Linked DNA regions of Homo sapiens: region 1 is linked to region 2. The links come from fine-mapping of genetic effects on gene expression. Tissue or cell type: breast. Region 2 holds a variant in brackets; the other region holds the start of a gene. All regions are shown on one strand. Distances are between the middles of the regions.

Evidence for each region. PIP is the estimated chance that this variant, and not a neighbour inherited with it, causes the effect. A credible set is the group of variants that fine-mapping cannot tell apart.
Region 1: it holds the start of CCNA1, and the variant in region 2 is the best candidate, but not a certain one, in a credible set for the expression of CCNA1 in breast (GTEx, PIP 0.55).

The regions. Positions count from the first base shown.
Region 1 is chr13:36,429,918-36,435,295 of GRCh38, reverse strand. It overlaps CCNA1 (cyclin A1), which reads right to left and starts at 2,801. Exons shown (of 9, transcript NM_001413923.1): 1 at 2,567-2,801; 2 at 2,075-2,263. The coding sequence starts at 2,239. RefSeq lists silencers at 2,908-3,067, 3,098-3,147, 3,428-3,497.
Region 2 is chr13:36,285,955-36,291,332 of GRCh38, reverse strand. The region is part of intron 1 of CCDC169-SOHLH2 (CCDC169-SOHLH2 readthrough); the gene reads left to right. The region is part of intron 2 of CCDC169 (coiled-coil domain containing 169); the gene reads left to right. Among named protein-coding and RNA genes, the nearest start is that of CCDC169, 9.2 kb to the left of the region's middle. The variant A/G (reference allele first, on the strand shown) is at 2,134.

The sequences.
Region 1 (5,378 bases), 140 kb before region 2:
TGGAGCTTACATGTTAGTGGGAAAGGCAACATTATATATGTCAAGATACGACAAACTCTCAAGATATGTGGCTTTAAATGGGATAGCTTCTGTCCCATTACTTAAATTTCTTTAAGCACTTAAATTACTTTAATCGACATAATGCAAACAGCTCCTAGACCTATTTCCTTGATATTGGAAAACTAACAAAGAAAATTCGTCACCATTTCTAGCTGAAAAAGGGACCGGTCAAGGTGATTTTACAAAGTCAACTTCTTCCCTGTGGTCCAGATTCCAGGGTTGTAATACTCAGAGGGAGCGTTTAGTTGAAAGGTTTTTAAGATGGGAAAATGGCAATATATTTGTATGCTTACAGATTTGGCCCAGTAGAAAAGAAAAAACTCATGAGAGAAAGAAAAGTGGCTAGAGTAACATCCTTGAAGAAGCAAGAAGACACGAGTATATTGTACGCATGGCGCGGGGGGGGGGGCACCTCTCATGACAGCAGGGACATAGCAGTCACATAACAGGATGTAGATGGCAGATTATATGGCACACAGGGACATGTGGAGATTCTCTTCTGCTTGCTTCTATATTTTTAGGAAAATAAGATACAAAGTGATCAGCTGAGACTGGGCATGAAGGAGGAGGTTACTGAGGATTAAACAGAGAAGGGAAGGTACAAAATAGATTTCTAAGCAGGTTGTAGAGGATAGGTACAGGGAAATGCAGAAGTGGCACCAGGTAACATAAGAGGTTAGCAACTGGGAATTTAAAATGCGACCATTCAACACAGGCACAACTGACAATTCATAAGAACCAAGTCTCAGGCGTTAAGTTTTAAAAAGCAAACATTGCTAAGCAAATTAAAATTTGTTAAAACCACTTCCACTCAATTTTCTCCAAAGCTTTGAACAGAGCATGTGAAGAGTCAGTAGATGAGAGGCTTCTAATCTAGTTTCTACCATAGCTTTCTTTTGGCAGAGGCTTAAACCTTTCAGATTTTCTCACTTATGAAATAGGAAAGGTATAGTTTTCAGTCTGGTTAAGGTATCTATGATCAGTTAAGTTCACACAACTAATATCTGAGGGACCATTACCTGTTAGCATAGCTGCTTAGTCAGTACTGGGAAGATGTCTGCCTTCAAAGCACCCATTTTGGAGTAATCTAATCTAGCCTGATCTAATCCTGATTTTAACACTATCCGCAATGAACACAGCCAAGATTATCCAGGTTTGCTTTAGGCACAGCCTGCATCAATGTGAACACTGCTCTAACCTGGAGGAACCCCAGTTCCACAGTTTATTTGGAAGCATTCACATTTCCTTTTAGCCCAGCCCTTAAATTACTTTAATATACATAACCCAAACAGTTCCTAGACCTATTTCCTTGATAGTGGAAAAAATAACAAAGAAAACTAATCACTATTTCTAGCTGAAAACCGAACCCCTCAAGGTGATCTTAAGAAATCAACTGGCCTGCCACCGTGGCTGACGCCTGTAATCCCAACACTTTGGGAGGCCGAGGTGGGCGGGTCACCTGAGGTCAGGAGTTGGTGACCAGCCTGGCCAACATGGTGAAATCCCATCTCTACTAAAAACACAAAAATTAGCCGGGCGTGGTGGTGGGTGCCTGAAATCCCAGCTACTCGGGAGGCTGAGGCAGGAGAATCGCTTGAACCCGGGAGGTGGAGGTTGCAGTGAGCCGAGATCGCGTCACTGCACTCCAGCCTGGCGACAAGAGCGAAACTCCGTCTCAAAAAAAAAAAAAGAAGGAAAGGAAAGGAAAGAAAAAAAAAGGAAAGGAAGAAGGAAGAGAAACAAAGAAAAAGAAAGAAGGAAAGAAAGAGAAAGAAAAGAAAGAAAGAAAGAACGAAAGAAAGAAAGAAAGAAAGAAAGAAAGAAAGAAAGAAAGAAAGAAAGAAAGAAAGAAAGAAAGAAAGAAAATAAATCAATCAACTTTCCTGTAGTCCAGATTCCAGGGTTGTAATACTCAGGGGGAGTTGTAGGTACAAGGGCAAGAGAAAAGCACCTGGCACCAAAGCAGGAGAGCTGTTCTCCACAAGCATCATTCTCAATGCGTCTGAGTCATTACCTGGCCACAGGTCCTCCTGTACTGCCCATTTGCAGTTAGCAGCCCTAGCACTGTCCTCTGCGGGGGATCCTGGCCCAGCGGGGCTCTGGTGAGTATCTGACAAGCATCGGGACCTCGGGCCACTGTAGCCAGCACAACTCCACTCTTGGGGTTGCTGCAGTGCATTGCTTCAGACTCCACGGGCTGCTGCTACCAGGGAAAGAGAAACAGACAAGCTGTTTAGTCGATTCCGTCCACCCCGGGCTCCAAGGACACAGCGAACCTCTAGGAGGGAGAGCACCAAGCAATGGGACTAACACCAATTGCTGATCTTCCCAGTAATTATTGGGGCTGAAAGGGCAGGTGCGACCGCACAGGCGATCAAAGTTGCTCTGAATCAAAACAGTTATTTGAATCCCTGAGGGAGGCTTTTTATCCCAAGACTTCGTGTTGGGCTGGAAGGAGAGAAACATTCTGACAAGCCTCCAAGTCGGGATACTAAACCCACGTTACCTGGAAGACGAAATCTGGGAGCCCCGGTCCTTCCCAGCTGAGATACTCTTCTCCCCAGCCCCCAATAAAAGATCCAGGGTACATGATTGCGGGAAAGCCGGTCTCCATCCCAAGTGACGAGCAGGGTGCTGCGCTGCGGCCTCCTCCCACCAGACAGGAGGCCCCAAAACCTGCCTGGACCCCAAAGCGGGCCCCGCTCTTCCCGTCGTTATCTTTCTATGTGTCCGGAACAACTGGCAAGTGCACTGGAGGATCGCGGTTAAGAGGTGGCCGGCTGGGCGGGGCAGGGCGGGGCAGGGTTGGGCAGGGCCGGGCCGGGCCGGGCGGGGCAGGGCGGGGAAGGGCAGGGAAGGGCAGGGCACGGAAGGGCGGGGCGGGAAGGACCAAGTGTCGAGGGATTCCAGCCTGGGAGGCGGCCGGGCTTAGCGATGCGGCTGAGCTGCCCACCCGCGTCTGTTGAATCGGCCAATCAGCGGCGCCCCCGGACCTAGCGGGAGCGTTTCCATGCCGACCGCGGCAGGCGTGCGCTCTCCGGGGCCGCATCGCCATGGCGACCTGCTCACCTGACTCGCTCCGGGTGGACTCGCCGCGACCCCTGGGCGTTCAGGCCCCTGAGGGCCCAACGGGCGACGGCCCTCCAGCTCCAGCTGTGCGTCTCCGCCCGGGCGAGGTGGGGCTGACCGCGGCCGTCTGCACACGTCCCCTCTGGTCCGCGCCCCCGGCCTGGGAGGGCGGACTCGCCCACCCCACGATGGCCCCGGCTTTGGAAGGGACTGTTTCCGTGACCCGTTCTCCCAACAGCCGCTAACAACCCCCTCTAACGTCTCCTGCGCGGCCCGCTCCTGAGAACCCTGGCTCGGGAGAGCGACGCGGGGTCCTCGGGGCTGCGCAGGCTGCGGCGCCCTGCCCACGCTGGCCCGAGGGCGCGGCTCGCTCCGGGTCGGCTCACACACCTACGCTTCCTGCCGGGAGGCGGCTGGGACGCGGCGGGGCTGCCCCAAGTGCAGTCGCGGCAGTGTTGCGTCTCCATCGCGGGGGTCCTTGCGGGCCGCGCCTGCCCCGCCCGGCTCCCGGTGCATGTGGCCTGCGAGGCGGCAGAGGAGATGTGGGGATTTAGGGTCGCACGTCGTGCTCGAGGTCCCCACGAGAGGTCTTCCCCCGCGGGCTCCTGCGCAACTGCGTGAAGCCGGCCCGGGAAAGCCAAGATTGTGGCCCAGGAAGAGGAAGGAACGCGGGCGACAGAGCTGGGGCTTGGGACGTTGAGGGGGTCGGTGGCAGCTCTCCGGGCTGGGGGCCGGGCGGGCGGCCCGGCCGCGTGGGGAGAGGAGTCCCTGGGGTCCTTATACGGGGGGCTCCTGGAAACCCGGGGGCTCAGACGCCTGCATAGGTGACTGACAAGCCAGGTGAAATAATCGAACTTTATTTTTTTAAAAATAATATGTATATATGCACACACACATTACCAATGCTATAGTCTGTTACTACTTTTGCTTTTTTTAAAACATCCATCCCTAAATCTCTAAATCAGATCCAAAGTCTATTCAAATGGCCACTTTATGCAAGCAACGGTTATCACCGTTTTTCTAAGTGTGCGTTATTAACATTTTCACCAAGCAAACTGAGTGTGGACATTGCTTTAATGGGAAGATAGTAGTATTCTAACAAAAGCGCCGGTTGAAAGCCTTGCAGTTGAGGTAAATATTAAGAAGTTGGTAAGCATCTGGAGAATCAAGGCTGGATGAGGGAGGAACGCAGAAACGGATCTTGTTCAACATGAAACTCATTTCTATACGTTTGTCACAGACTTCTATTCCTTGAGAGACAGCAGTCCGCTTGCACCCCAGATTTCCTGTGCCTTTGAATATGAAGGAAACACGGGAATTCTGGTAACATCTAGATTGCCGCAACAGAGAGTCAGAGGCCAACGGGGACCAAATGCTCTGCTTCGAAAGGTGAATGAAAGGAGCATTTCTGTCCTCTTGCCTGACGCCACTATTGGATATCTTCCCGGGCGCCCTCCCCCACCTGCCAACAGTGTTGTTATTTCCTGGGTCGCTGAAGGACTCAGTGGCTAACTCCGTCTGGGACTCTACAGCAAGTCCTGCCAAGAGCCTGAGTCGCTTGGGAGCGGACAAGATTGGCTGCGCTCACGAGACCTGGTCCTTTGTACACCCCTTTTCATCTGATTTCCTTTGACAAAAATGACCGAAACCTCACGCCCTTTTCCTTTTCTCCAAAGTAGAGGCGCCGGCGCAGTGTTTGTTCGTGGAACCTGTCGTTTTGATCCACTTTTCTGGGATTGAAGCTGAAGCCAGTGTTGGAGTCGGGGCGTGCAGGGAGTGGGGAGCGCCCAACTCCTGCAGAGGCGGATCTGAGGCTGGTTTTTCTCAACTCAGATCTGGCCAGGACCAGATGACAAGGCTACAAAGGTGTCCAGTGACTTTCAGCCGTCTTTAGCCTTAAAAAAGCCTTAAGAAATAATAGTAACCAAATGAGACCTTCGGATAATTTAATACCCCTCCCCTTATCTGAATGGCTGCACCTTAATCCAGCCTTAATCTATATGAAATAGGATTATCATGAACATCTTTTTTCCTGTTCCATCCACTTTGCTAAACTTGGCAAAGGGAAGTGGTTAGTTTATGATTGTTTTATTGTGCTGTCTTAGAATTCTACATTGTCGTTACAAGCCTCTGGTCATATCTTAAACAGGAGAGTGAGTCCCATGAACTGATATCTATGTGTGCATGTAAATTCAGGTACGTGTATAACTTGTGCAATACTTATGGCTTTCTTGGCTTTAAAAAATATC
Region 2 (5,378 bases):
AGAGATTTCATACAGGAAACTCTAGAATAAAATAAATTTGGGAAAGCTTTGCAGCATTAACACATGTTTGCTGAGCTTCTGAGAGACTTTGTTAGTAAGTGAAACATAACAGTGTGTATCTTATTGCTACAGAGTCTGTCTTGTCAGTCTTATGTGATCTCTATTTTAATGTTAATGCTGGTCATTTGTGCCTAAACTCCAAATTGGGGGAAGGTATAGTGTGGCATGTCCAACCCTCCACTTCTCATAATGGCCTGAACTAGTTTGTCAGGTTTCTTTGGGATTCCCTTTGGCCAAGAGGTGGATACATTCAGTCTGTTGAGGGGGCTTAGGATTTTTTTTTTTTTTAGTTTATATTCCCCCTTTTTTGGTCAAGGTATGCAGAGGTGGTATCCATAGCTAAGCTTTTATTAACTTAAGTTCTGGGATGGTGTGGCTACTTGCCCCTGGTCCATCGTGCCTCTCAGTGGGACCCCTATTGCCAAGGAACTTAGAGTCAAAGACTTAAATCCAATTAAACGTTTTAGGCCAGATGGGAGTGGAGGTGAGCAGGTATTCAGTAATCTTTAAAACCCCTTTTAGGCAACATAAGAGCCAAAAACCAAAACTCAAAAAATAAGATTATAAAGTTGAGTTATCTATAAATTCTCTGCATTGAGATACTGTAATCTTGACTTATAGCAATTAGCTGTACAAAACACAAGCATATTGTTCAGCTGTTTAGGCATCTGTGTGTCTGTCCTTGATTTGGAGGGTCTTAATTAATTTTATCCCTCAAAATCTGGCCCTTACAATGATACACTTCTGCGATAGCCCCTGGGCCTGGAGGGATTCAATAGTTTCAAATTCTGGAGGTAAAAAAAAATGTAAAGTATTAGCAGTGTTTCAAACAAAAAGGTAATAAGCCCTGCCTAGTTCTGACAGTTACAGGAAAGGAAACTTATAGGTAGCTAAACATTTAAATTATTTAGTGTCAATTTAGGCACTAAATTTAAACATTTAAATTATTTAGTATCTATTTATTTAGGCACAGAATAAATTATATTATTTTAGATAGAGGCAAAATTATTAAGAGAATCTTAATTTTTTTGTGGTACAGGCGTGTCCCTGTGTCTCATGAAAGTAGTTTACTATGATTGTCATCTTTGCCCAGATCTAAAAATGGGGCTTCGGTTAACTTAGATTTGCTGTCAGATACTGGCAGGAGTCACTGCCTTCTTTAGATGAGATATGTGTACCCAGGAGTCAAAGCCCTGTAACTTCATAGCACAAGGATTAGTTAATAACACCTGATAAGGACCTTTTTTTTAAGGGGCTGGAGGTGGTGACACTGGAGTCTATGACTTGACTGGAAGCTGTAAAAAGATTCTATAACCTTGCAGTGATTAACTTTTATAGCTTTGATAAACACCAGCAATAAGCCAGAGACTTAATTTTTGTTTCAATTTTGAAGATGTTTCTTAAAAATGTTAAAGGGCTCAAAACATTTGATTAAAACAGATCCACAGGTCATTGTAAACCAATAGTTACTAATTTAACCAAAATGATTATTGAAAGACTTAAAGGCAATACAGAAGGTTACATGCATATAACAACTTTCAGCCTTTTAGGTCTCAGTTTTTCTAAGCAGTTAAAAATCTAATGAAGACAACATATGAATTATTTTGATAAAAAGTAAAATGTTGTTTCTTACGCCAGTTACCAGAAAGGCAAAGAAAAACCTGCAGTGTGACTACTTTTCCTTATAGGAAGCCTATTTAGACAACCTGGAAGTTAAACCTGATGAAAAATATTCTTGAATTTAATCAGACATAGGAAGAATGTGTTCAGGGTTATGAGTATAGCAGAGGAATACATAGTTCTTAGTAACTGCATGAGAAGTTTCTTGATTACATTGAAAAATTTACATCTATCAAGAAAGCCAAGAGTACAGAATCAAATTATACTGAAGGAAAATATTGCTTTTCTAGACCTTTAAGATAAAACATTTTAGCATCAGGCCACAACAGTGGAACCAGAGGAAAAAAGTTACAGAAGCTAATTTAGAAGCTGAAGGAGAGAGCTGTCATCTCAGACCTTCTCAGGGGGAGAAAAAGCTGAAAGCAGTGAGACAGCAATAGTTGAACTTCTGAG[A/G]TATGATTCTGAGAAGCTTTTAAAAGAAACAGTTTCTAAAATTTTAAAAATCTCTTGTAATTTTATTAAGAGAAAAGTAATACCTTAAGAAAACCTTGTTTTAAGATAGGGGATCAATCTTAGAAAGACTATTAAAAATAATTCCCTTCTAATTATAGCCAACTTAATATATAAAATAGCTTTTGTAATTTTCCTTTTATGAACCTTATCATAACTTACATAGACCATTTATTACATGCTTGGACTTTCTGACTTGTCCTAAAATTTTCTGTTTTCTGAATAACTAGCCATTTTATTTTAGGATAAGAATTTACTATATAAAATCTTTCTCATGTAAAATTATTTGCTTGTTTTATAACTTTTTTATTATAAATACATTTTTGTATCCACAACTTTCTTTATATCTCTCTCCCCTACTCACTGATTCTTTTTTACCTTCTTTTAGAAATAACTTTTAAATAACCTTTGAATTACTTAAATTACTCTTTTTTAAAAAATGAGAACACAACTTGCAGAATTATATATTAGAATTCTTAGTAACCTTAAATTTTAGTGAAAACTTAGGAAGCAAGAAATCCTGAACTGTTTATCAGATGTTAGGATTTTCTGGATGAAACCATTCTACAATTTTAGAAATATGTTTTCCCATATCATAATCTTTTCTTAATTGGAAATGTCCCAGAAATCAAATTATTATCTATTGGATTGGAGCATCTATTATTTAATTCAAAATAATTTTAAGATTTTAACTTACACAAAAAGTCCACTTACAAGCATTTATCTCATTTACATGTATTCACCTTTTCCATTTCTTAATAGTTTATCTAGATTACTTCTGAAAACTGAGATATTACACAAAACTAATCATTATTTAAAGTTATTTCCGGGTCGGGCACGGTGGCTCACGCCTGTAATCCCAGCACTTTGGGAGGCTGCGGCGGGCGGATAATGAGGTCAGAAGATCGAGACCATCCTGGTGGCTAACATGGTGAAACCCTGTCTCTACTAAAAAAATACAGAAAAATTAGCCAGGCATGGTGATGGGCGCCTGTAGTCCCAGCTACTCGGGAGGCTGAGGCAGAAGAATGGCGTGAATCAGGGAGGTGGAGCTTGCAGTGAGCCAAGATTGCGCCACTGCACTCTAGCCTGGGTGACAGAGCGAGACTCCATCTCAAAAAAAAAAATTAAAAATAAATAATAAAGTTATTTCCCTATTAACCATTTTTAAAATCTGAACACTAAATGGTGAGCACCTAATTAAGAACCTTAAAATTAAATGTATTTGCTGATGACTCTGAAGATTTAGCTGTTTCATTGAACTAACAAGTTAGTCTTATTTGTCAAAAAAAAATACACAAAGATTATTCTGTTTTTGGTTGAGTTTAAAGTCTTAGAACCTTTATGTCAACCCTTGACACCTTTGTATACACACTGATACAAATATAAAACCACTTAGACAAAAATGTATGGGGACAATTCTGAAGACCTTTCTATTTTTATCAATAATTTTAAAACCACTTTTATTTATTAAAAATTCACATGCACTTGAAAAGCATTTGGACTTAATTTTTGAGTACTCATTTACTTATAAGCCAGTTTGATAACATGCTAGACACAACGCAGAACATAATACATGAATATTACATAAATATATCTAAACATGTATACATACATGCACAAAGAAATAACCAATAGCTTTTACCTTGGAACTCCAGCCATGAGACAGCATTACAAACTCACAGACCTACAAAAGATAGCTGGCTTCAAGTTCTTTTTCTGACAAAATTGGAACCTGTTCATATGGCCAAACTTCATTTGCCCTAATAGGTAATCCAAGGAAATTTGTGAACCAAAATTTTGGGTAAAGGAGTCTCTATGGCAGTTTTTTTAAACCGCTTTTACCCTTGTTATTTTTTATTTTCAGTTTCAAACAACTTTCCAGTGTTTACATTCTAGTTAGATCATAAATGAGTCCTAGCACCAGCAGCTTAGTAACAGCAGATTTAAAGCAGGCAGAAAAGAGGGGAAGAGGGAAGATAGCTTTAGAAGACTCTACTTAACTCTATAGCTTCAGGTTAACTATTTGAGCTCTAAATTTTTCTTGCTGTAATTTGCCCGTCAGTTTAAAATGTACACAAAAATGCACCATATGTAATCAGCTGCAGTCCCAAAGAGGATGACAAAATCAGGGGCCAGGATGTTGAAAATTGTTTTTTCTCTTCAGTACTGGTTTCCTGGTTTGAACAGGAAAAGAGAAAAAGAAAGGAGTGGAGAGGAGAAAGGAGGTCAGGTTTTATGGGCAGGAAGAGGAAAGAGAAAAGAAGGAAGGGAGGTTTATGAGCCTTCCAGCCACTGCACAGTACCCCTACCTCTCTTGTTTATCTCCTCTTAGGGAGAGCCTCAGCACCCTAGAACTGAAGGGTGTGGGATGAATCCCTCCCATTTCCTCAAGTCACCAGTCAAGGTAAACTGTTTCCAGCCAGAGGGAGCGAAGGGTGGTTTTGGCTGAGAAGAGTAGGGCTGTAGATGGCTTCTGAGATAATCAGGATGATGAAGTTGGAAAAAAGGGGAAAGAGAGAGAGAAAGAGAGACAAAGAGATCAGGGTGCACAAAGATCTCACACACGGACAAACAGGTGGTGTGCATCCAAACAAATCCCTGGTTAAGGGGCTGTGTAGACTCCGAAATCCCTCATTTCAGTTTCAAATGGCTCCCCCAGGCAACTGAGTCAGAACTGAGCAAAGGCCCAAGGGTGCAGCAAATACAAACAAAACCAATGCATAAAATGCTCATATAGTTTCACTGGCAGCCAAGTCTAAATAAAGCAGAGCCCCAGCGACACCCCAAAAGAGGCAGAAGGTGGTTGGGTACACTCTGACTAATGCACCTAGTTCCATAGTTTCTCAGCTTCTCCAGAGGTCACTTTCTTTGCACCAGTGAAGCATTGAAGGTAGCAGACACCATAGCAGGAAGAAAAGAGAGGATCCCTAAGACAAAAGAGTCTTGGCAGCTGCTGGGAAATTCCCTAATATCCTAGCCATGGGTCAGCTAGCCATCAGCAACTAGTATTCACAGGTGGCCCTATGCCCCATCTGATAGAAACCAGACTGGCAGGCTCAGGCCCTGGAGCATACAGCACTCACCATACGGGACACTAAAATTGTAACCAGCAATTGTAAGTGCTGATTGCATAGTTCAATTAACAAAAGCGAGGTCCAGTAGAGAGAAAGTGACTTCATTGACCA